Linked DNA regions of Homo sapiens: region 2 is linked to region 1. The links come from fine-mapping of genetic effects on plasma protein levels. A gene starts in region 1. The other region holds a variant in brackets. All regions are shown on one strand. Distances are from middle to middle. Region 1 holds the start of PPBP (pro-platelet basic protein). Region 2 overlaps EREG (epiregulin).

The links. PIP is the chance, under the fine-mapping model, that this variant and not a neighbour inherited with it causes the effect. The UK Biobank Pharma Proteomics Project read protein levels with antibody pairs (Olink). The fine-mapping took linkage between variants from a reference panel, not from the people measured, so its PIPs are less certain.
Region 2: its variant is fine-mapped to the plasma level of the PPBP protein (UK Biobank, PIP above 0.99).

The regions. Positions count from the first base shown.
Region 1 is chr4:73,983,379-73,994,284 of GRCh38, forward strand. It overlaps PPBP (pro-platelet basic protein), which reads right to left and starts at 4,812. Exons shown (of 3, transcript NM_002704.3): 1 at 4,578-4,812; 2 at 4,139-4,274; 3 at 3,061-3,996. The coding sequence starts at 4,725. The coding sequence ends at 3,894. RefSeq lists enhancers at 1,465-1,978, 1,979-2,491.
Region 2 is chr4:74,382,700-74,399,130 of GRCh38, forward strand. It overlaps EREG (epiregulin), which reads left to right. Exons shown (of 5, transcript NM_001432.3): 4 at 1-95; 5 at 2,028-6,050. The coding sequence ends at 2,109. Among named protein-coding and RNA genes, the nearest start is that of EREG, 26 kb to the left of the region's middle. The variant G/A (reference allele first, on the strand shown) is at 8,763.

The DNA of each region.
Region 1 (10,906 bases):
ACAGGTAACACACACACACACACACACACACACATATATATATATTACACAGAGATACGTATGTGTGTGTGTGTATGTGTGTATTTCATAGTGTTAAAAATGGTTTTGTTTCCTAAACTGGAAAACACTATGAAATCAGAGATTATAACATTTATCACTGTTTCAGTGTACTGGTAGAGACTCAATTCAAAGTGCCACATTAGCGAAGATGATGTGTTGAAAATGATGATGATGAAGTTTTAACATATCCATGTATTTGCTCCTTCAAGCAATTGAAGTATACCTCTATATTAACATGTGTAATATATAGTTGCAATTATTTGCCTACTTATCTGCCTCTCCCACCACATAGTGATCTTTTCAAGTGCAATTCTCTGTGACTTACATACAGTAGTGCAGCACATAACATTTAGGTCAACAATAGACTGCATATATGACAATGGTCCCATAAGATTATAATGGAGCTGATAAATTCCTGTTGCCTAGTGATGTGATTCGCATTGCCTCATGGTTGTAAAGTCATAGGAAGCAGTGTATTACTGACATGTTTGTGGGGATGCTGGTGTAAACAAACCCATTCACTGCCAGTTCTATAAAAGTATAGCACATAAAATTATGTATAGTACACAATACTTGATAAGAATAACAAACAACTATGTTACTGGTTTATGTATTTACTATACTATACTTTTTATTATTATTTTAGAATATACTCTTTCTACTAGTTATAGAAAAAACATTAACCGTGAAACAGTCTCAGATAGATCCTTCAGGAAGTATGAGTTGTTATCATCTGTCTGTTGTCATAGGAGATGGCAGCTCCATGCATATTATTGCCCATGAAGAGCTTCTAGTGGGACAAAACAAGGAGCTGGAAGATAGTGATACTGATGATCCTGACTCCGTGTAGGCCTAGGCTGATATGTGTTTTTGCATCTTAATTTTTAACAGAAAAGTGTGAAAAATAAAAAATACAAAACAAAACAAAAAACAATTAGCCAGGCTCTATGGCTCATGAGTGTAATCCCAGCCTGAGAGGCTGGGGCAGGAGGATCGCTTGAGACCAGGAGTTCGAGAGCATCCTGGGTACCTAATCAGTTCCCTTCTCAATAACAATTTTCAAAAATTAGCTGGGCATGATGGTGCACATCTTTAGTGAAGATCAAGGAAGATCACTTGATCCCAAGAGTTTGAAGCTGCAGAGAGCTATGATCATGTCACTGCACTACAGTGTGGGTGACAGAGAAAGACCTCTTCTCTAAAATAAATAAATAACTAGATAAAAAAGAAAACGAGCTTATAAAATGACGATATAAAGAAAAAACGTTTTTGTACAGTTGTACAATGCGTTTAAAGTGTTATTACGAAAGTCAAAAAGTTTAAAAATTAAGAAGTTTATAAATAAAAAACACAGTAATCTAAGGTTAATTTATTGTTGAGGAAAAAATATTTTTTATAAATTTAGTGTAGCCTAAGTGTGTACAGTGTTTACAAAGCCTAAAGAAGTGTACAGTCATGTCCTAGGCCTTCACATTCACTCACCACTCACACTCCGACTCATCCAGAGCCACTTCCAGTCCTACAAGCTCCATTTGTGGTAACTGCCCTACAGAGGTGTACCATTTTACTCTTTTATACCATAATTTTACTATATCTTTCTACATTTACAGATGTTTAGATACTCAGATATTCACCATTGTGTTACAACTTCCTATGGTATTCAGCACTGTAACATGCTGTACAGGCTTATAGCCTAGGAGCAATAGGCTGTACTATATAGCCTAGGTTTGTAGTAGGCTATACCATTTAGGTTTGTGTAAGCACACCCTGTGATGTTCACACAATGACAAAATCACCTAATGATGCATTTCTCGGAATGTATCCCAATTGTTAAGCAAAACATGACTGTATTTTTGAATATCCTGTATCCAACACAATGGCTGTTGCAGAATGTTTTGTAATTCATATGTGTTTATGAACCTGAAACTTGAAGCCCCTTCTGAGTTAACAGCAGAGAGAATGAAGGGGAGGGATGATTTTGCATATGGATGGGCAACACGCTGGGTTTTTACAGTCTTACACCCAGATTTTAATGTTTGCAGTGTAAAGGAATCCAGGTGGTCCTGAGTGGCAACTGAATCATTCTTTCTCTGCATGTAAACAGAGTAACTCAATACATGCACTCAAAAACAGAAGACATCTGCATCTCGGGAGGTATAAGCATGGTGTCAACACTGTGCCATGTCTCAGGAGCTGGTCTTGTCAAGTTTCAGTGGGAAACCACTAAACATAATGAGTGAGATGCCTGATACCCTATAATTATTATAGTATATACAGTATGCTATTTATGTATCAAGTTGTATTACATGTGTGAATAATACTATGTTATATGTAATGTAATCTCTTCATTAGAGAAAGAAGAGTTGAGGAAAGCACTGTGGTGTGGTGGTTAAGAGCACAATTTGAAATTCCCACTCTGTTACCTACTTAGTTATCTGAAAGTGGGCAAGTATTTTAAACTCTATAAACTTGATTTTTCTCTTCTGTAACACTGGGGAGGATAATAATAATCATAAGAAATAATTACTAACATTTATGTGTGGCTTATTTATGACACACATTATTTTAAATACCTTAAATTTATTAACTTTTTTAATCCTTCCATAAACTCTATGAGGGAGGCAATATTATCCCCATTTTAGGGATGAAGAACCTAAGGTACAGAGAAATTAAGCAACATGACCTGATATACACAGCTAACAAGTGGCAGAGCCAGGTTACCTCATTATTCAAACTCCAGAGGATGTTCTTTTAACCAGATCATATCTATCTTTTAAAAAATTGTTTAGTTCATGCATGGAAAACACTTAGTATTCCTGGCATATTAAAATGATTAATAAATTGGAACTGTTATCATACTACATTAAGAATGACACCGATCATCAATTTAGTAACTTTTGTTGTTCAAACTGTGAAATACCAAGTATACAAAAAAGAGAGGAAAATTAAAGCTTTTTTTCCCCAACAATCCTGTTAAAATTAATAATAGATGACAACAAGTCAATAGCAAATTTTTATTTCATGTGAATATTTTTGTAAGAATAGTGTGGGTATAAGTTTTAGGGTTTAAAAAATGAATGAAAGTTCTGTTGATGAAAAAAGTAGAATTTAGAATTAGGAGTCTAGTAAGGTTGAAGTCCTATATTGTACTTATTTATAAGGCTCATTCTAATGATAGAATTATAACTATGTAGATATGTTAATTCATTTTCATCATCTATTTTTGTTCTACTAGTGGCAAATATATTCACTTTAAACCAGCTAACCACAGTTTATAAGATTCATATTCACCAATTTATTATTTTAGTGTTTGATGGCTAAAATAAACATCAGAATAAACTTTCAGGGAGTATTTTAAATAAGACATCCTAGGACTAAGACACTGAGAGACTCCATTAAGTTCCTAAATATATTAACAAAAATGTATTGAGCAAATATTCTCTGTTGGGCTCCATGTAATTCCTATTATCATTGACCATTATGAAATCTAATAATACCCATGAGTATGTCTAATAACCATAAAGTAGACCAGGAAAAATCAACCAAGTTGTGTTAGAATAGAAATTTTTAAAGAAAAAAATGCAAAGTACAGTCCAATGTTTAGGCAAGAATTAGAGGGTTGAAACCAGGCTTATTTATTTTCATCTTCTTTCTGCCATCTTTTAACCAACCTTCTCAGAATAAAATGTGATTTTTGAGACAGAATGAAACACATATCCAAATTTTAATACAGTAAGAATAGGTATCCTGAATAAATGAGAACTCTAGAAAATCAAGGTTTCAAAATTCTACCCTTCCTGGGAGTTAAAGAAGTTTGGCAGAAACAGAACAAATTAATCAGCAGATTCATCACCTGCCAATTTTTTCTGTACAATTTTCTTGATTCTGGGAGCATCTGGGTCCAGGCAGATTTTCCTCCCATCCTTCAGTGTGGCTCTGCAAAAGAGAACAGGGTTATCTGTGGGTGTCCTGATCTGAATATCAGAACTAATCCATGAGACTGGAGGAAACGAGTGCATATGTGGATGGAGGTAGAGGGTTTCTCTGATAAGGCAATAGCACAGAAACAGCAACTTACATCACTTCGACTTGGTTGCAATGGGTTCCTTTCCCGATCACTTCCAAACTTTGGATGTTTTTGGGATGAATTCCAGAGGTTGTCTTTATACACATGCAGCGGAGTTCAGCATACAAGTCACTGTCTAGACTTTCCTCTAGGGTAGAAAATGTGACCTATTGGTGGTCATGAATATTTTCCTCAGGTCTCTTATTTGCAGATTGAGGGCAATTGTACCTCTCTCATAAAGCCATTGTGAATATGATCTGTAACGCTTTAGTAAAGTGCCCAGAAGATTGCCCAGCACACAAGAAGTGAGAAGTGACCCCCCTGTGTGTCTCCTCCAATTGGAGTTATTGGTATAATGGCCCTCTCCAGCCCCAAAGGCACCAAGCTAGTCTTTACCCCAGAGACAGGTGTAGCAGAAGCAGCAACAAGTGCAGAGAAGCAGGGCCTCTACCTTTGCCTTTCGCCAAGTTTCTCTTAGTTTGTCCTTTGGTGGAGGAAGCCAGAGCAGTCAGCAGCAATGACAGAAGCAGCAGCACCTGCAAGGCATGAAGTGGTCTCGCACTGTTACAGGAAGGGGTGGTATCAAGTCTGAGGCTCATGGTGGAGAAGGCTGAGCTAGAGTTGTTTCCAGAACCAGAAGACCTCTGAGTGAGGGTGAGTTGCTGCCTACAAGTCTGCAGATAAGTGGCTTCTCATGCCCTGAAGATGTCATTTATATGCTCTTTCTCAAAGCCAGTAAGAAGGAAGAGGTAGGAAAGGAGGAAGTGAGGGTATGTGGTGATACACACATAAGCATTTGAAGCTGTGCCCAACCCAGAGAAAGACCAGACAGGTCAAATTCCTACTAACTTGCTTAATGTGCATCACTTCACATTCCCACTCTCCCTTTCTCAATACTTATCTTCCTTACACCTGTGTAAGAACTCCGTTCAGGAAGGTAAGAACTAGACTGAAATACTACATGCATTTTCTTTGTATGATTTATAACAATACGCCCTGCCTTTTCTATACTGCAGTTTTTAGGCTTAATAGAAACTTTAGGAGCACCTGAAGGCACAAACATGTGGCCCTTGAAAGAGAAAGTTATCTTTGCTTGCCAAAGAAAGCAAATGTTCTTTTCATGAATGTTGATAAATATTGGGATTGGTTTGGAGCATGTAAGTAAAATAAGAGCCAATTACCGTCAAAGGTTGTCTTTGGATTTTAGCTTATTGGATTCTTTCTGCCTTCAATCTATATTATCTTTTGTAATTTCATCTAGAAACTACAAATGAAACTCATCCTCCTTTATATTACAAAAGAAGCTACTTGTTTCTACCACCTAAGAATACCTAAAAAGTAGGACCCAGCATATTTATTTTTCTTTTTATTTTTAATTTAACAGAAAAATTATATAATTTATTGCAAAAGATTCGTATGCTGCAGATGTCTTTGAAATAAAACACAAATTTCTCTTCATCATTTCTCCACATTCCTACTATTCAGTGGTAAACACTGGTAACAATTTTGCATTAGTTTTCAATTCTGTCTGCACTTATATGCACACATGTATATGTATACAATGAGACACGTTTAAGACATAGAGGTACACATATACATAGAAGTATTGTATATGGATCACTATACAGCTGACTTTTATCCTTCAAAAAATATGTGTTCCTTATCTTTTCAGGTCATCTTAATGTAGTTTTCCCCCATTCTTCTTAATGACCATGTGACGTCCTGTGATAAGAACAATAGTTACTCAACCTTGCCTTGTTGGTGCCCTTCACGGTGTTTCCAATTTTGCACTATTAGAAATTGTGCAAGAAATGTCCTTACCAAGGAAAATATTTGTTCCTGAATTCTCAGACCCAAATTAAAGGTTTTGGTCTGAAATGCTATATCCCTACAAAGATAGAGAGGTGGACCTACACATTACATGTTGGCTTTATGTTATTTTCTGGTTCTCTGTCCCATCTGTAAGACTTCCTTCCTCAATTGAACCATGCACTTTTGTAGGGAGTGGCATGTCCTGTGTTTGTTTGAATGTCTCATGTATCCTATAACATGTAGGATACTTCAATATAAAGTAGGTCTTAAATAATTAATAAATCAATGAATACGTATCACATGAAAGCTTCCCTATCCTTTCTAATCACCTACAATTCCAGGCCAAACTCGACAGGACCCAAAGCAACTATGCTATTTAAATTTATTTGGAAGATTGTCAATAAAGAAGAGGCAGATGTAAGTGGCACTGGCAACAAGTTTTCTTCCTTTTACAACTATGTATAAGTCTCACAGAATATTATTTAAATTTTCCATATTCTTTTCTTACTTTTCATATCCTTAAATTTTAGAAGAAATGCTTAAAATACTAAATGTTCAAAATTACTCTCTATCAAAAAGATGAATATAGTAATTTTTTAAATCATGTTTTTGTTTTCAAGCCAATTTTCCCTATTGTTTAATAGTTATCTACTATGTCTACTCAAGTTCTCAGGTCCTGTTTTTAAATGCGATAACCTACAGACCACATTTGACAGTTTACTTTAGAAGTAAGCAGACTTCCAAATTAACTCGCCCTGGAAAGGTTTCGTGACTTGATGGTGACATTCTATCTCTGAGTAAAGTATTTTATTACGAGTTCCTCAAATGATTGATGTACTAATTACTGTAGAACCTACTGACACTAAATAGGACAATGATTTATTTCTAAGTTTAGCTGAAACAAAAAGTTTTATTGATTGTTTTGTATGTAGACATTTAGCCTGTATGCTGTAATCTGTAGCTAATGATTTTAACTTCGGTATTGTACCCTCCAATGAAAAAGAAGACAACTCTGGTATGAGGAGTTTTTCTGCCTTATTTTAAGCTTTTCTATTATATAAAGCCCTTGTAACTTGTGAAAGACTCTAGAACACCCCCAACTTTGTGGATGTGTCTTCCCAGGTCTGTCTTCCCAGTTGGCTTTCAATAAACATGTATAAAATTATTTCTGCCTCACTAGCCTTAGTTTCAGTTGATGAATGTATTTCTTATTTTTCTCCACCTCATTTATTGTTTTCTTTAAATTAGAGTTTAGCAGTAGAGCATATTTAATTGGAATGATTTTTCTCCCTGTCACAACATAGAAATTTCTAGTCTTAAGCAAGCTTAAAGGAAGGGTGTAAGCTGAGAGTTCGGAGTCTTCTGAGAGTTGAGATGTGGAGTTAATTGCAGAGATAAGCTCAGCAGGACACAAAATGAGGGGAGCAGACTTCTTTCTCTTTCCTCCTGTGGGGTGACTTTATAGCTTTTCTTCATTATTGAGATTGAGATATTGTGAATTCGCAAGTCATATACATTTTCAAACATAAGATCAAAGCCATTTCCAGAACAAGATATAAAGGTTTTTTTTTTAACACTATTCATAGTATATTTCATTTTCTGTTCAACACCAAAATACATTGCTGAAAATGTTTATTGGCTTCACTGGACACCTTTTTTCCCCCTACTTAACGTTATCCAGATTTCTTTCCTCGTTCATTAGTAAGATTTCCTAAAAGTTCCTAATCGTTTTAAGAAAACTGTATGAAAAGTTTTCTGAAGTAATGATGCTTTTGAGTGAGTTGATACCAGGAAAAAGGTAGGCTCTTTCCTACCAGGAAACCAACTGGTGGGTTAATACCAGGAAAGAGGTGACTCCAGTATCATGGAGTCATTGTCTTAATCAACAAATGTGGCTTGTCACGAAAGACACATCGTCGGCAAAATTCGTGAGGAAGTAGTAACAGATTTCTTGAGTCATCAAAATTTCTTAAGGATATCAGTCAGCATTTGATATAAAACAATATTTTGCTAGTTTTTATTAACTCAAAAAATATTGATTAAGCATCAGTTGATTAAGCCTGAACTTCCTAACAGGTTTTACGAAGTTCTCTTTGCATGACTTGGTCATTTAATTATTTATTTTTTAAAAGTCAGGCCTAAAATATTTGTGGAAAGCAATGGGATATGAAAAATACTCTACTCTTGCTGCTATGATGACAACTGCTGCTGTTAATTGCTGTTACTGTCATTTGCATCATTCCCTTCCATTTCCACGTTGAGAAACACAGTAAAGATGATGATAAACTGAGTGTACAAAACTGGTTAAAAGATGTTTTTAAAAACTTATTCAGTTAAAAGCATACTGTTATGCAAAATTATTGTTTAAATAAATGCTAGAATTAGAGAAGAGTTATTTTGTTCCTTGTTTTTAAAATAACTTGACAGCCTTTTTATTAATCTTACATTGTCATTGTGGGTTTGTATATGTGTGTGTTGGGGGGTGCTAAGTTATTTTAGCTCTTTTTTCTTTAAGTCATCTTATAAATAGCAGAGTCATGAAGGAAGCAAGCAAATTATCTAAGACTCAAAGCACATTTTATGTTAGCTATTTTAAAAGAAAATATCTAGAGACATTGGAGGACCACTATCTATAAAATTAAGGCATAAATGACTTCTCTGCCTCACACAGAACATTTTTAACGCACATTTCCCAAATCCTTCTTTCAAGTATGAAGGAAATAGACTAGCACAAGCAAATCAATCATAAAAGCAATTAGTACCAAAAATGCTAAGGATAGTACAATGTTGAGTCTGTTCATTAAAGTATCTTAATCAATAAATTTAAAATACTAGCCATCAAAAGTTTTTCTGTAAGGGCTGAAACCAAATGTGCTTACTGTATAACTATGAGTTGACAAGAATTGTTCAGATGTGAATTGAGGTTTTACTGTCTACTGCCCAGAGGTGAAGCATGGGGTGAAAATGGGAGGACAGTGGGGAGGGTGAAGAAGTTGAGGGGAAGTATCTTTCTGGGCGCTATTATATACAATACTTCAAAGTTTTGCCAGACTCAGAATTTGTGTTTTAAATTATGTTGATTAATATCATTTGTTAAATCTCAAATATATGAAAGTTACCTAGTTTCCTTACATGCTCATTCATTAAGGAAATTCTAACATAATGTTCTAGAGCATTGTTAACAAGTACCATTAATCCTCTTTTGTTGTGTAATAAGTCGACCTCATTGTTAGTGGCTTAAAATATTAATTTATTGTTTCTGATAATTCTGTATGTTAGCGTGAGTTTCTTCTGCTAAGCTCACTTGAGTGCAGTCAAGAGCAGCTGAAATGGCTGAAATAAAGAGTGGGACAATAGGGTGACAATAGTCAATAATAACTTAATTGTACATTTTAAAATAACTCATAAAGAATGTAACTGGATTGTTCGTAACCCAAAGGATAAATGCTTGAGGGGATGGATACCTAATTCTCAATATGCTTATTTCACATTGCATGCCTGTATCAAAACAGCTCATGTACCCCATACATATATACAGCTACTATGTACCCACAACATTTTCTTAAGAATAAGAAAAATAATAAAATAATTTAAAACAACATTTTAATGGCTTAATTCACATGAGAGGTTGTTGGTGTTGGCTGCTGGTTGTGATTTCTACTGGGGCACCTGCGTTCTTCTCCTACTCTTTTAAATATAATTATTTAACTTCTCACTAATAAGCAGAAATGAGGAATGGCGGGAGAGAAGGAGAGTAGGCAAGGGAAGGGGAGGGAAGAGAAGAAGAAGGAAAAGGAGAGAAGGAAGAAAATAGAAAGGAAAAAACAGGCAAGTCATAGTCCCTTCCAACACCCTCCTCCTCTCATCCTTGTCTCCTCTAGTCTTCTCTTTTCTAGTTCTTCCCCTCACCTCTTCTCCCCTTTCTTCCACTCTTCTTACTGGAAAATATTTGTTCTGTGGGAAAACTGAGTATATTTGCAGCAGAAAACCTTAACTTAGACTGAAAGTTCCTCATCTTTATAATTTCCAGATCATAAGGATCCTACAAAGATAATAGGCATGTAACAGGATTATCGATTAATATCAATAAATTAATATTTGATTGATGAATACTTATACAAAGGAAAATACATCATATATTTTGATAGGTACTATGTAATTGACAGAAAATATACAGAGAGTATATTGTTTCCAGAGCTTCTTTAAAAGACTCTGGTGGCTTATGCCTGTAATCCCAGCACTTTGGGAGGATGAGGCGGGCAGATCATGAGGTCAAGAGATCAAGACCATCCTGGCCAACATGGTGAAACCCCATCTCTGCTAAAACTACAAAAATATTAGCTGGGCAGGGTGGCACGCACCTGTAGTCCCTGCTACTCTGGAGGCCGAGGCAAGAGAATCACTTGATCCTGGGAGGCAGAGGTTGCAGTGAGCCAAGATCATGCCACTGCACTCCAGCCTGGGCGACAGTGAGACTTGGTCTCAAAAAAAAAAAAAAAAAAAAAAAAAGACTCATAGCCTATTCTAATATATACAAGTACATGCCAATATAAACATGTATAATGTAATCCAACTGGAGTGTGAATGTATGTACATACATACTAATATGATTAATCTTCTTTCTTTCCTTTTCTTGTGTTTCATAAAAGAGCAATTTCATATAAATACCTATTCTTAGGTATTTATATAGTAAATTTGAGGGACAAGGGAAGTTGAAGTACTGATCAAGATTGGGATGAGACAGAACCTCATTTGTCATTTAGATAGGGAAATGTTAAGTATAACCTAAGAATATGTATTTAAATGAAATTGCTCTTTTAATTTTAGAGTGACAAGGGGACTTGTTTAGCCAAAATCACTTGCTTTTTGAATACCTAGTATGTGCTAGGCACTGTCCTAGGAACTGAGATGAAGTTGATAAGCATTGTCCCCGCCCTCATGAGGCTTACATGAAGCTAGAACAGAGAG
Region 2 (16,431 bases), 400 kb after region 1:
CAACCTTTAAGCAAAGAATATGTGGCTTTGACCGTGATTCTTATTATTTTGTTTCTTATCACAGTCGTCGGTTCCACATATTATTTCTGCAGATGGTAAGTCAGTGTGGTTTTATACTCTGCTTTTACAAATTACTTTTACATAATGCAGACCTATAAACTGGGTAAAAATATGGATAAAGTATTAGAGAGATAAGATCAAACCTGTACAAATGATATTTACAAGAGTTGAGAAACTATTAAGTATTATGCCCAACACCTGAGTGATGGGATCAGCTGTACCCCTAATCTCAGCATCATACAATATATCCTGTTAAGAAACCTGCATGTGTACCCCCGAATCTGAAATAACTTGAAATTATTTTTTAAAAATATGTTTTTGCTGCAGAACATCTGGATTGAACTTTATTATCAGCTCTGATACTTATTACCTATGTGACCTTACATAAGTCAAATTGAGAGTATCAATTCCCTTCTTTATCAAATATGGACAGAAATTATTATCTTACATTAGTTATAGGGTGGTTGCTTTTAGTATGTAATATGATATTTCATGTGAAAGTAAATCATAGGATAGGTGCTACTGTTATAGTTAACCACCTGAATTTAATTCCTCAAGTCACATTTTTTATTTTATAAAAAACAACCTTGTAAATTAATAACCTTAGAAGCTTGGGTTATCTTACAGTTTAAGGCAGACTGGTGGAACTATTTCTAGACAATTATAAAAAATGGTTGTTAAAAAATAGTTTGTGTCAGTCCCCCAAAACAGTCGTACCTCATCCTCATGTGCATTATTGTCACAAGCTGAAAACAGAAAAATAGAAAGTGAACATTGAAAGTATAGTTTGGCATTTTTTTAAGGGTTAGGAGCAAAGGATGGGAACAGTGTGAATTAATTAATAACAGTTCCCTTTAAAATGTCTCCATGAAACATATTTTGAAACAGTTACAAATTACTCAAGGTGAATTTACGTTTTTATTTTTCTGTGAAAGTAGTGCACTTCCAATTTTGAAGGTCTGAAAGTGTGCTACTTTCATAATATTAAATTTATTTTGTCCACATTTGATTCTAAGTATCCATCAAATAATAATGCCTTCCTAATAAGTTGCCATGACAGAACTAAATATTATTAAAACTGAAATATGCCTGCAAATCTTTGACCACAATCCTTTCCTTTATAGATGGGGCACTGAGGTTTAGAGAGGTTCATTCAAATATCCCAGCTCATATAGTTGACAAATGCCAGAGTGAAGAACAAATTCTTTCTAATTCATATTCTTACAGTAAACATAGACATGATGTGGTTTCCTCAAAGCTACATGTCTTATTTCCAAAATAGGGACAAAATAAACTCAAAAATATTAGGAAAATAGCTTAATGAATAAATGAAAGAAGATTCTAAATTATGATAAATCTATGAATCCTAGCTATGAGACCTTGGACCTTGGGCACATTATATACAACCCATTTGTATTTCACTTTCTTCATCTGTAAGATGAGGATGGTAACAGCAAATGTGAGAGTAAAATAAATAATGCATGTATAGCACTTAGAAAATTGTAGGTCACCAAATTAGTGCCTGATAAATATTATTTTTATTTTGATTAGTGATAGCATTATATCAATGTGATGGAAAGAGTGTATTAATGTAGCATGATTTGTAAATATTCATTCCTTAGAAGGGAGGAAGGAAAAAGAAAGAGAGACAGAAAAAGAAAACCTAAAATTCAGACTTAAATGTGGCCACACGCCTCTTGGAATTTCACAATATTCATGATCACGTTAAAGACTTTGAGAAACTCTTTAAGTGTATTTTATCATTTCATTCCAAAATTGTTTGACTACAGCACATCACCTCTTCATCCCTCTTTTTTTTTTTTTTTTTAACATTGTCCAACCTAAATCTGTTCAACTTTGTCATTTTGGAAACACTATGCTAATGTGCCTTTGGAGTCCATATATAACACACTTGTTCCTTTGCTATTAACTGCAGTGCTAACAGTTTCGTTTGTGAATATTTCCAGGTACAGAAATCGAAAAAGTAAAGAACCAAAGAAGGAATATGAGAGAGTTACCTCAGGGGATCCAGAGTTGCCGCAAGTCTGAATGGCGCCATCAAACTTATGGGCAGGGATAACAGTGTGCCTGGTTAATATTAATATTCCCATTTTATTAATAATATTTATGTTGGGTCAAGTGTTAGGTCAATAACACTGTATTTTAATGTACTTGAAAAATGTTTTTATTTTTGTTTTATTTTTGACAGACTATTTGCTAATGTATAATGTGCAGAAAATATTTAATATCAAAAGAAAATTGATATTTTTATACAAGTAATTTCCTGAGCTAAATGCTTCATTGAAAGCTTCAAAGTTTATATGCCTGGTGCACAGTGCTTAGAAGTAAGCAATTCCCAGGTCATAGCTCAAGAATTGTTAGCAAATGACAGATTTCTGTAAGCCTATATATATAGTCAAATCGATTTAGTAAGTATGTTTTTTATGTTCCTCAAATCAGTGATAATTGGTTTGACTGTACCATGGTTTGATATGTAGTTGGCACCATGGTATCATATATTAAAACAATAATGCAATTAGAATTTGGGAGAAGCAAATATAGGTCCTGTGTTAAACACTACACATTTGAAACAAGCTAACCCTGGGGAGTCTATGGTCTCTTCACTCAGGTCTCAGCTATAATTCTGTTATATGAGGGGCAGTGGACAGTTCCCTATGCCAACTCACGACTCCTACAGGTACTAGTCACTCATCTACCAGATTCTGCCTATGTAAAATGAATTGAAAAACAATTTTCTGTAATCTTTTATTTAAGTAGTGGGCATTTCATAGCTTCACAATGTTCCTTTTTTGTATATTACAACATTTATGTGAGGTAATTATTGCTCAACAGACAATTAGAAAAAAGTCCACACTTGAAGCCTAAATTTGTGCTTTTTAAGAATATTTTTAGACTATTTCTTTTTATAGGGGCTTTGCTGAATTCTAACATTAAATCACAGCCCAAAATTTGATGGACTAATTATTATTTTAAAATATATGAAGACAATAATTCTACATGTTGTCTTAAGATGGAAATACAGTTATTTCATCTTTTATTCAAGGAAGTTTTAACTTTAATACAGCTCAGTAAATGGCTTCTTCTAGAATGTAAAGTTATGTATTTAAAGTTGTATCTTGACACAGGAAATGGGAAAAAACTTAAAAATTAATATGGTGTATTTTTCCAAATGAAAAATCTCAATTGAAAGCTTTTAAAATGTAGAAACTTAAACACACCTTCCTGTGGAGGCTGAGATGAAAACTAGGGCTCATTTTCCTGACATTTGTTTATTTTTTGGAAGAGACAAAGATTTCTTCTGCACTCTGAGCCCATAGGTCTCAGAGAGTTAATAGGAGTATTTTTGGGCTATTGCATAAGGAGCCACTGCTGCCACCACTTTTGGATTTTATGGGAGGCTCCTTCATCGAATGCTAAACCTTTGAGTAGAGTCTCCCTGGATCACATACCAGGTCAGGGAGGATCTGTTCTTCCTCTACGTTTATCCTGGCATGTGCTAGGGTAAACGAAGGCATAATAAGCCATGGCTGACCTCTGGAGCACCAGGTGCCAGGACTTGTCTCCATGTGTATCCATGCATTATATACCCTGGTGCAATCACACGACTGTCATCTAAAGTCCTGGCCCTGGCCCTTACTATTAGGAAAATAAACAGACAAAAACAAGTAAATATATATGGTCATATACATATTGTATATATATTCATATACAAACATGTATGTATACATGACCTTAATGGATCATAGAATTGCAGTCATTTGGTGCTCTGCTAACCATTTATATAAAACTTAAAAACAAGAGAAAAGAAAAATCAATTAGATCTAAACAGTTATTTCTGTTTCCTATTTAATACAGCTGAAGTCAAAATATGTAAGAACACATTTTAAATACTCTACTTACAGTTGGCCCTCTGTGGTTAGTTCCACATCTGTGGATTCAACCAACCAAGGACGGAAAATGCTTAAAAAATAATACAACAACAACAAAAAATACATTATAACAACTATTTACTTTTTTTTTTTTCTTTTTGAGATGGAGTCTCGCTCTGTTGCCCAGGTTGGAGTGCAGTGGCACGATCTCGGCTCACTGCAACCTCACCTCCCGGGTTCAAGAGATCCTCCTGCCTCAGCCTCCTGAGCAGCTGGGACTACAGGCGCATGCCACCATGCCCAGCTAATTTTTGTATTTTTAGTAGAGGCGGGGTTTCACCATGTTGGCCAGGATGGTCTCAATCTCCTAACCTTGAGATCCACCCTCCACAGCCTCCCAAACTGCTGGGATTACAGGTGTGAGCCACCGCACGTAGCATTTACATTAGGTATTACAAGTAATGTAAAGATGATTTAAGTATACAGGAGGATGTGAATAGGTTATATGCAAGCACTATGCCCTTTTATATAAGTGACTTGAACATCTGTGCCCGATTTTAGTATGTGCAGGGGGGCGATCTGGGAATCAGTCCCCTGTGGATACCAAGGTACAACTGTATTTATTAACGCTTACTAGATGTGAGGAGAGTCTGAATATTTTCAGTGATCTTGGCTGTTTCAAAAAAATCTATTGACTTTTCAATAAATCAGCTGCAATCCATTTATTTCATTTACAAAAGATTTATTGTAAGCATCTCAATCTTGGTTTGTCAGTTTATCTTAAGCATGTCAATTCATAAAAACAAGTCATTTTTGTATTTTTCATCTTTAAGAATGCTTAAAAAAGCTAATCCCTAAAATAGTTAGATCTTTGTAAATGCATATTAAATAATAAAGTATGACCCACATTACTTTTTATGGGTGAAAATAAGACAAAAATAATAGTTTTAGTGAGGATGGTGCTGAGTAAACATAAAAACTGATTTGCTCTCAGCTGATGTGTCCTGTACACAGTGGGAAGATTTTAGTTCACACTTAGTCTAACTCCCCCATTTTACAGATTTCTCACTATATATATTTCTAGAAGGGGCTATGCATATTCAATGTATTGAGAACCAAAGCAACCACAAATGCATAAATGCATAATTTATGGTCTTCAACCAAGGCCACATAATAACCCAGTTAACTTACTCTTTAACCAGGAATATTAAGTTCTATAACTAGTACTCAAGGTTTAACCTTAAAATTAAGATTTCCTTAACCTTAACCTTAAAATTGATATTATATTAAACATACATAATACAATGTAACTCCACTGTTCTCCTGAATATTTTTTGCTCTAATCTCTCTGCCGAAAGTCAAAGTGATGGGAGAATTGGTATACTGGTATGACTACGTCTTAAGTCAGATTTTTATTTATGAGTCTTTGAGACTAAATTCAATCACCACCAGGTATCAAATCAACTTTTATGCAGCAAATATATGATTCTAGTGTCTGACTTTTGTTAAATTCAGTAATGCAGTTTTTAAAAACCTGTATCTGACCCACTTTGTAATTTTTGCTCCAATATCCATTCTGTAGACTTTTGAAAAAAAAGTTTTTAATTTGATGCCCAATATATTCTGACCGTTAAAAAATTCTTGTTCATATGGGAGAAGGGGGAGTAATGACTTGTACAAACAGTATTTCTGGTGTATATTTTAATGTTTTTAAAAAGAGTAATTTCATTTAAATATCTGTTATTCAAATTTGATGATGTTAAATGTAATATAATGTATTTTCTTTTTATTTTGCACTCTGTAATTGCACTTTTTAAGTTTGAAGAGCCATTTTGGTAAACGGTTTTTATTAAAGATGCTATGGAACATAAAGTTGTATTGCATGCAATTTGAAGTAACTTATTTGACTATGAATGTTATCGGATTACTGAATTGTATCAATTTGTTTGTGTTCAATATCAGCTTTGATAATTGTGTACCTTAAGATATTGAAGGAGAAAATAGATAATTTACAAGATATTATTAATTTTTATTTATTTTTCTTGGGAATTGAAAAAAATTGAAATAAATAAAAATGCATTGAACATCTTGCATTCAAAATCTTCACTGACAATGCAGCCTCATTCTTTTTTTTTCTTTTGCAATTTTTTCCCCACAATACATTAAAGGGTTTAAAAGCAGTGACAGGGATATAATGTGTGTAGACATAATGACTCAATGGTGTTAATTTGGGAAAACATTCTATAAATGTATCACGTTTTATAGCCAGCATAGTGAAGAATTTCTTGTAATAGAAGGAGCCACATTAGTTATAAAATTCTAGGTGTTGGTATTTAAAAATCCTAGGAGTTAGGATTGATTGATTGATTGATTGATTGATTGATTTTGAGATGGAGTCTCACTCTATTGCCCAGGCAGGAATGCAGCGGCACGATCTCGGCTCACCACAACCTCCGCCTCCTGGGTTCAAGCGATTCTCCTGCCTCAGCCTCCCGGGTAGCTAGGACTACAGTCACGTGCCACCATGCCCGGCTAATTTTTGTATTTTTAGTAGAGACAGGGTTTCACCATGTTGGCCAGACTGGTCTCAAACTCATGACCTTGTGATCTTCCCGCCTCCGCCTCCCAAAGTGCTGGGATTACAGGCATGAGCCACCATGCCCAGCCTGGGGTTAGTATTTTTTAAAATAATATTTTAAAGAGTATTTTAAAAGAGTATTTCTAAAAAGAATAGATATCCTATTGGGAAGTAGCATTTGAAAAGATTCATCAGCCAGAATGGTGCCTTATGATTCTCTCAGCCTCTGCAAAGAGGCTTGGCTCCCCTGAGCCTTTAGAGCAGACAAGCTTGATTCTTCCCACCCTTCATCACAGTGATGGATGGCTTCCTTGGTATACTTATTCAGCAGCCTACAGAGTACTTGCTCCATTCCTTAGCTCCTTGGATCCTTCATTAGCTTGCAGCTGGGGAAGGGACCTATGGCTTCAACCCTTTGACAGGGAGGTTAAGCAATTGTCCTGGGTCACACCACTGGCAATAGGTGGAGGTGTCATGAGAATTCAGGTCTTCTCACTCCTAATTCCACTGATGTTCGGGCCATGTCAGAGGCAGAGGAAGATTATAAGGAGTTAGTCTCAGATCTAGTTTAGAGTTTTCTTGGGAGAAATAGAAATTCTTGTAAAATAGAATCTTTGAATTGTCATTGAATCATTACACTGATTTTGTTCAAGGTCTGAGAATCCAGAAGATTAAGGAAGAGAACTCTTAGAAACACTTTTTTTTCTCTTGGTTTCCAGGATATCACACTCATCTGCTTTTCTACCTGCTTCTCAGTCTTTAGCTAGATCTTCCTCAATATTTCCCTATTCTCTACCATGGACCTATCAAAAATAGAGTGCCCCAGAGCTCAATATTGTAATTTTTCTCTCCATATAGCCACTCCCTACTTCATTTCATACAGTTTCATATCTTTAATTGCTGTCTATATACTGATTTCTCCCAGTCTAGATATTTGCCATGAGTTCCAGATATCTGTGTCCGATTACCTAACATCTCCACTTACATATTCACTAGGCATTCAAAGGTGACACGATCAATAACTAATATTCCCCTATAAACGTTTCTTCAATATAGTTACTATTTCAATAAAATTCAACTCAATCTTTCTTTTATCTCAGACCAAAAACCTGCTATCTCTCTCTCTGGGAATTGCTAAATTACTCATCTTCAAGTGATTTCAGAGAGAAATAACCTAAACTTTTACAATGGTGGCAGAATTGGTCATTTTGAAGAGATTATGCAGAGGGAGGAAAAAGATTCCAAGAAACTGGAGTTAAACAGAATATCAGAGTCTTCAAAAGGATAAAATTATAAGCACTGAATTTGACTCTGATCAATTCTAGAACATATTTTTCCCTAAACAGTCATAAAACATGAAATATATGTGCTGTTCATTAAGTTCCAACATGAATTCATTAAGAAAAGACATAAAACATGGATCACTTTTAAATATCCTGTCTGGTCACCCACTAATGCTAACTATCTGTCATACAAAATCAAACACAGATACTCTGCTCAGTTTATCTAAATTTCAGAGAAATACTTGGGAAAAGACTTCCATAATTTTCTTATTAGCTTGTAGGGCAAAGTACCTATTAAGAAAATAAGCAAAACTTACGCTCATTTAATGCAGATAATGTACGTGGATCCATTACATGCTAAATGAATGGAGAACATGTGACTAAGTGACTAAGTGATACAGAACAGATAAGGGATTGGTTATACTAGCAGATGTTATGAAATATACATAAAAATACAATCATATATTGTTGACCAATGATGACCTTTCCAATTAATCTATGAATCAATGATTTTTCTATTATTCTCAGCACCATCCCTTCTTCTGGGGATGGCAGGATGTGTTCCAAAGAAGTATGTGTCATGTTTCTGACCTTCAAGTTACTATCAGAAACAATCTGCATTCTTAAAAAATAATAAAAACAGTGCTTTATGAATTAATCAATATTTATTGAAAAGCTTTTCTGTGTCTAGTAATTTGCAAACGGTTGTGGAATATTCAAAAGAGTATAAAATATACTATCATTTGCAAAAAACTTAGAAGAGAGATTCAAAGTTATGAGAACATTTAAAGAACAGTGGAGGCTTTAATAGTTAGGGTTTCTTGATTTTTAGGGGAAAAAACCAATTCTGGTGAAACTAAAACATTTATAGGAAAGATATGAGACAGTCAATAGAATTAGAGTAAAAGCTAAAAAACAGGACAGTTCTAGTGATTTAGGTAGCAGTGTGTT[G/A]TTTCTAGAAGTTGTGTATTCCAACCATTTTACTTCTTGGGAGCTCATGGTCTAAGAAGACAGCATATGACTGTCTAACTGAGAATATGAGTACACCCCTGGCCAAAGAAGGGCACTTTAGCTGAGAAAAGCAAAAGTCTGTATCTAATAAGAAAAAAAAATCCCCCAAAGAAAAATAAAATGCTATTACCAGAAGAATGAATAAATTCTGAAAAGACAAATAGCAGAAGTCCACCATATGTAGTAGATAGTATCATACAAAATAATTTAGAGAAAGGTAACTTCGAGAGGGGAAGTTTCACTGAAGAGGTAGGACTTTAATTGGACTTTGAAAAAATGACAGGACTTTGATATAAGCAAAGGAGAGATTGTAGGACATTTCAAATGGGAGAATAATCAGCAAAAACACTAACAAAAAGCATAGCATGTTTACGATGTGTCAGGGAGACTATCCTGACAGTAGCAGAGGATCTATATTTGAGAATAGTTACAAATTTAGTTTGAAGGCTCAGTAAAGATGTAAGAAAAAGATAAGCTTTACATTTATGGACCATTGAGAATCATTTATAGTTTTTAATCAGAGGAATGACACCATAAATTGGTGTGGTAGGCAGAACAATACCCCTCACCTCAAAAGATATCTGTGTTCTAATCCTCAGAACCTATGAATATGTTACCTTCCATGGTAAAAGGGACATGACTGATGATTAAGGTTACAGATCTTGAGATGAGGAGGTGATTGTGGATTAAATGGGTAGGCCCAATCTAATCACATGAGTTCTCAAAAGTACAGAGTCATTCCAAGTTGTCATCAGAGAGATGTGATGTGAAAAGGAAGGACCTGACTCACAGTTGCTGACAAAGGAAGAGGGTTCCAAGCCAAGAAACACTGGTGGCCTATGAAAGTTTGTAAAGACAAGAAAATAGACTCTCCCCTATATTATTCAGAACAGAATGTAGCCCTGCCAACACCTCGATTTTCACCCAGTGTCAACACCTTCCTTTAGCCCAGGTATCTATTAGACTTCTGAATTGTAAGATAATAAATTCTATTGTTTTAAGTCACTGAAATCATAGCAGTTTGTTGATATTAAAAGAAATCTAATATGGTTAATTTTTTGGAAAGATTGAAATGAGATTATTTGAGAACACTACTTGAGAGAGGCAGGAGGCAGAGAGACCTACTAATGGAGTGTTGTAATGACCTAGATGTAAACTGAAGAAAGTTGAGACTAGGATTATGTCTGGGAGAACAGAGCAGGAGGAGCATTTTAGATATGTCACAGAGGGAAAATCAGGTGTTTAGTAATTGGATATGAGAAATGAGAGAAAGCAAAGTTGGAAAGAATTGAGTTTAGGAAGGAGGAAAAATGGTTTCCATATGTTGACTCTAAGATAACAGCAGGGTATATAGTAGAAATAGCATATTTGAGGTACCTGACAACACTTCAAAATTACTTACTGTTTTACAATTTACAAAATACTTTCACATCTATTAAATCTGTTTCGACACACACTTTGATATAGAAGGTAAGATTCATAATTATTACCTAAAAAAGAATATGGTCTCCAGAGAAGTTGTGATTTGCACCAGATCACAAAGCAAGTAAAGTCACAGAACTCATACACTATCCTAGTGCAGCCTCTAAGCCCCAGGCCAAATTTCCCTCCCCTTAGATGAACCCCCAATGCAGAAGTTGGGTATGCGGTCTGGACTAAAGCTGTGATGTTGAGAACCCCCATCACAGAAACCATGGCTGAAGCCAAAGAATCACTTCAAGTTAAACACTCCAAAGGTATGAGGGTAGAGGAAAAATGCCAAGAAAACCAGTGACTGAGTCTCAGTAAAGTGATAAAAGAAACTTTATCTAAGGAATGGGTAAAAGAAAAGAAGATTTTGCAGACAAAACAAATAATTAAACGTTTAATTTCTTCATTCAATCATTCAAATACTTATTGAGGGCTTATTATGTGTCTTACTGTTTACATCTTGAGAATAAGTGATAAATGACAAACAAAACTTGAAATTTATATTCTAGCAGGAAAAGAAAGAAAATAAATACTAATAACAACAACAGTTGCAAACGTGTATAGGGCTATTTGTTGTTAAGCTTTTCAAATACAATAACTTATGAAATCCTTCTAACCACTTGATGAGGTATGTAACTATTTATTTAAAATGCATTTTTCAGATGGGGAAATTGAGACACAGGGTAACATGTCCAAGGTCTCATGGTTAGTGATAAAATAAGGTAGTAAAACATAACATGCTACAATTTCAGGGTGTCTTTAGCTAGGGTGGTCAAGGAGGCATCCCTACAGTTTGTGGAGGCAAACTATCCTTGGCTTGGAGCAATAAATGCAAGGACTCTAATGTTCAGAAGACAGTAAGACCAGCCTGGCCCAGGGCATACTCAATGGACAGTTGCAAGAGAAGTCAGAGAGGTAGTCAAGGGTAGAAACTTTAGGGGCTATAAGATTTGGTAAGGTCTTTGCCTTTTCTTAACAATGCAATAAGAACATAGGTGGGAATTGAACAATGAGAACACATGAACACAGGAAGGGGAACATCACACACCGGGGACTGTTGTGGGATGGGGGGAGGGGGGAGGGATAGCGTTAGGAGATATACCTAATGCTAAATGACGAGTTAATGGGTGCAGCACACCAACATGGCACATGTATACATATGTAACAAACCTGCACGTTGTGCACATGTACCCTAAAACTTAAAGTATAATCAAAATAAATAAATAAATAAATAAATAAAAGAAACTATCAGAGGGCTGGAGGTAGGGTGATGAAATAATTCAAAAAGATCAGTCTATCTGCTCTGCCGAAAGTAGACTAAAAAGGACAAGACTGAAAGATAAGGTGGGGAGTATTTTAATAACCCACCTAAATGGTTAGGGGAAAGATAGCAGTAGTGGAAGTAATGAGAAAGTGTTGAATTAGGAGTATAAGTAGACTATACTTAAATCAATAGGATTTGCTGATGGTTATAACCAGGACATCTAGGAGAACATAATGGCATGAAACTCAGAAGAAAGAAAAAAAAATCCAAGATTTACAGTGATAGTCAACACGGTCTAACAAAAAAAAATCTAGAAAACAATGGGAAAGAAGAAAAACGCCCCTGGTTTTGACCTCTGAATGTCATGAAGCTTGAAAGAGAGTGCTTTTAGTGAGTGATGAAAGTGGAGGCAGAATTGCACTAGATTAAGGGAGTTGGTGGCGGCTGTTGGTAGAGAGTACTTATTTAGAATATTAGCCATGAAAGAAAATGGAAGTGACAAGCCCTCAATTGTTCAGTTGTTGATTATATAGTTTTAGAATTAGCAGGCCTTGTCCTTTTTTCTTGGGCCCTTTCTGTGTTCATTACAATCTTTAGTAAAGGAGAGTTGACATCAGGGAGGAGGTTAAGATTATCAGTTAAAACGGAAGTTGGGAATACCAGTGGTTTTCGCTTCTTCCAGTCACCTCTGTCACTCCAACCACAGATAGCTGAGAGTTGGCTCTCACCCTGAGTTTCAGGAAAGGGACCAATGTGAGTGAGTCATGTGCTTACATTAGATGCAGTCTTGATTAGAGTGGGAGAATCTGGCTGTGGGAATATGAATATGTCCCTTATCAGTGGGTAGGGCCTTTTTATACATGGGTGGGGCTATGGAACAGAAATCTGAATTGAAGAACATACACATTAGCTATATTGAAAATTCATTCTTCCGCAATGCACACGATGTCTCCTGGACCTGTCGATAATGTTGTATAATTTAGAAATCATGAGTAGGAGGTTTTGGGCTAATGGATACAAATCTTAGCTGACGTTTCAGGGGTAACAATTTGTTATCCTTAATATGAGAATCTCCACTGTGGTATTCGTTAGGTTGGGGGCAATCTCCAGTAGTTAGTATGTGTTTGTTTTCTGGTCCTTTGTTATTCTTTGGTAGTTAATAGAAGAATTCAATGTTTATTATTAATACACTAATAGCAATTCGTCATTCCTCCTTAGCACCAACCTAGGTTGTAAAAAGGCTTAAAACAAAGACTGTAACAGAAAGAGTTTCTGAATCTAGGCCCACCCTGTAAAATTTAGGTCATAAAATACATGTAAGGAATTAACCTTGGAAATTAAATTATAAAATAAGTAATTGAATTATTTTGAAAGCTTTTACATAGAGAAAATGCAAATTTAGCATATAAGAACTGCACCTCTTCCACAGATTCTAATCAACCTTATTACATTTTCTTTTGAGAATGTGCAGCACTTGGTTTCAGGCTTGGGATACTTTCCCAGGAAACAAATCCACGAGGTCATGGCCCTTTAAAACAGTCATGCATCTGTTTACAACTATGGAAAAGAGATTTCCTGGGTGTACGTTCCACCAAAGGACAAGTTTAGGGGTCAGGCTTCAATGTCATTCACCAACCTCAGTAGCAGGATCTTGTGTCACTGGAAGCCAGTTATAGCATGTAATAAAGGTGTGGGTGTTTACATATGTGCACACATCTAATAAGAAGCTCACAGTTTCATTTAAATTTATGGCTACTTATACCTCTTTAAGTCATACGCTAGACTACAGAAAATTATTTGTTTTAATTACAAAATAATAAGTTTGTTTTAGCAAATTTTCAAAGTAGTGTTAAGTAAGTTTAAGTTACCTTTTTTCCCTTACATGTTAAAATTACCACTATGAACATTTTCATTTATAGTTTTGCAATCTTTCATGCGTGTGACTGTGGGTATGTATACACAGTAATGGGGTCATTCTGTGGGTACCATTGTGTATCTTGTCTTTATCACTTAACAATGACATTTTCCATGCCATTAAATATTATTCTGCAGCATTTTAATCACTCCATTATATATATGATATATATATAATATATATTTTATATATCATGTATTATATTATATATATATCATATATAATATATATTTTATATATGTATATAATATATATATATTTTTTGAGATGGAGTCTTACTCTGTCGCCCGGGCTGGAGTGCAGTGGCGTGATCTCAGCTCACTGCAACCTCCACCTCCCAAATTCAAGTGATTCTCCTGCCTCAGCCTCCTGAGTAGCTGGGATTACAGGTGCCCGCCACTACGCCCAGCTAATTTTTTGTATTTTTAGCAGAGACAGGGTTTCATCATGTTGGCCAGGCTGGTCTTGAACTCCTGACCTCGTGATTTGCCTGCCTTGGCCTCCCAAAGTGCAGAGATTACAGGTGTGAGCCACCACACCCGGCCATGACTGCATAATCCTAAAACAACACTCTATTATTGGATGTGTGAGTTGTTTTCAGTTTTCCGCAGTTGCATATAAGTTTTGATGAATACCCTTGTAACAAAATTGTGCCTCTTTTATATTATTTCCTTAGAATAAGTCCCTAAAGTGAAATTACTAAACCAAAGCTAAGAATAAGCAAATTTTGTGTTTGATATAACTCCCAGCAATTATTTTTTAAGTTTAAGTAACAAAATAAAAAATATATCTATATTAATATCTACAGGATAACTTGGCAAATGATTCAATCATAAGTTATCCTATGAGCTTTTCACCCTACTTGCTTCATCATTCCTTCTCCCTCTCTGAACAATTTGAGAAAAGTTACAGATATTGCAAAGCTCTGCCTCTGAATACTTCAGTGATTATTTCCTAAGAATAAGGATATTCTCTTATAAAACCATAGTCAAGTTGTCAAAATCAGGAAATTAAACATTGAATACTTTTATCTGACATTGATTCCATATTAACTCAAATTTAAATTATCCTAATAATGTCCTTTATGATTATTTCTTTTTTTTTTTTCATTCAGAATTCAATCCAAGATCACAGGTTGCATTTTGTTGTCAATCTCTTTAATTTCCTTTTTCATTGAACAGCTCCTCAGCATTTCTTTGGACTTCTTGATCTAGATATTTGTAAAGATTACAACTCTGTTCCAAATTGTCCCACATTTTGTATTTCTCTGATGTTGGTTAATAATTAAAATCAGATTATGTATCTTTGGAGGGAACATATTGGAAGTAATAGTGTGTCCCTCAGAATACTTTATATTGTGAACCCCAGGATATCAATTTATCCTAATGTTTATGATATTAAGATTGATCATTTTGTTAAGATGACATTTATTAGATTTATCCACTATAAATTTACTATTTTGCCCTTTATAATTAATAACTAATTTGTGGGGAGATATTTTTGGACCATGTAAATATACTGTTTCTCATTTAAATTTCACCCACTAGTTTCCATATTGATGTTTTTCCTATTTGATCATTTCTTCTACATTTGTTATTTGGGGTTCTACTGTAAGGAAGAGCTTTTCCTAAAGGTTTATTTATTTTTATCACTATGAACTATCAATATTTGTTCTATCATTGTTTATAAATTAAACAGAAGAGACCTTTCATGCCAGTTCAGGAGAGGGACTAAGCACCTTGAGCATGTTACCTAACCTCTCTGTGCCACCATTTCCTCATCTCTATAGCAACTCTGCCTTACAGGGCTACTATAAGAATTCACTGAATCAATACATATAAAATGCTAAGAACAGCATTTGGCAGATACTGAATGTTCAATAAGTACCATCTGTTATTACTACTTCGAAAGAAGTTCCTCACAACTGGTGGTTACTTGGGAGAAATAAAAAATTTAAATAATTTGTTCAAATCACTTCTAGTTATTTCTAAATTACATCTGGGGTGATTGTATTTCTCCTTACAGAATTACACCAGTTGTGCTTTTACAGTTTTGGTTTCGTTTTTGGTAAGAATTCAGGAACACATTCTTAATGTTTTATCAGAAGTATTCCTGGGCAATAGAAACTAGGGAAACACACAGCTTCCTGCATCTTCCATGGAAGGTGGAAGGTAGTGTGTCCGGAATTGGTGGGTTCTTGGTCTCACTGACTTCAAGAATGAAGCCGCGGACCCTCGCAGTGTTACAGTTCTTAAAGGCGGCGTGTCTGGAGTTTGTTCCTTCTGATGTTTGGATGTGTTCGGAGTTTCTTCCTTCTGGTGGGTTCGTGGTCTCGCTGGCTCAGGAGTGAAGCTGCAGACCTTGGCGGTAAGTGTTGTAGCTCATAAAGGCAGTGTGGACCCAAAGAGCGAGCAGCAGCAAGATTTATTGCAAACAGTGAAAGAACAATGCTTCCACAGCGTGGGAGGGGACCTGAGCGGGTTGCCACTGCGGGCTCCAGCAGCCTGCTTTTATTCTCTTATCTGGCCCCACCCACATCCTGCTGATTGGTCCATTTTACAGAGACCCAAGTGGTCTGTTTTGACAGGGTGCTGACTGGTGGGTTTACAATCCCTGAGCTAGACACAAAGGTTCTCCACGTCCCCACTAGAGTAGCTAGATACAGAGTGTTGATTGGTGCATTCACAAACCGTGAGATAGACACAGGGTGCTGATTGGTGTGTTTACAAACCTTGAGCTAGATACAGAGTGCCAATTGCTGTATTTACAATCCCTTAGCTAGACATAAAGGTTCTCCAAGTCCCCACCAGTCAGGAGTCCAGCTGGCTTCACCCAGTGGATCCCCCACCGGGCCGCAGGTGGAGCTGCCTGCCAGTCCCATGCAGTGCACCCGCATTCCTCAGCACTTGGGTGGTCCATGGGACTGGGCGCCATGGAGCAGGGGGCGGCGCTCTTTGGGG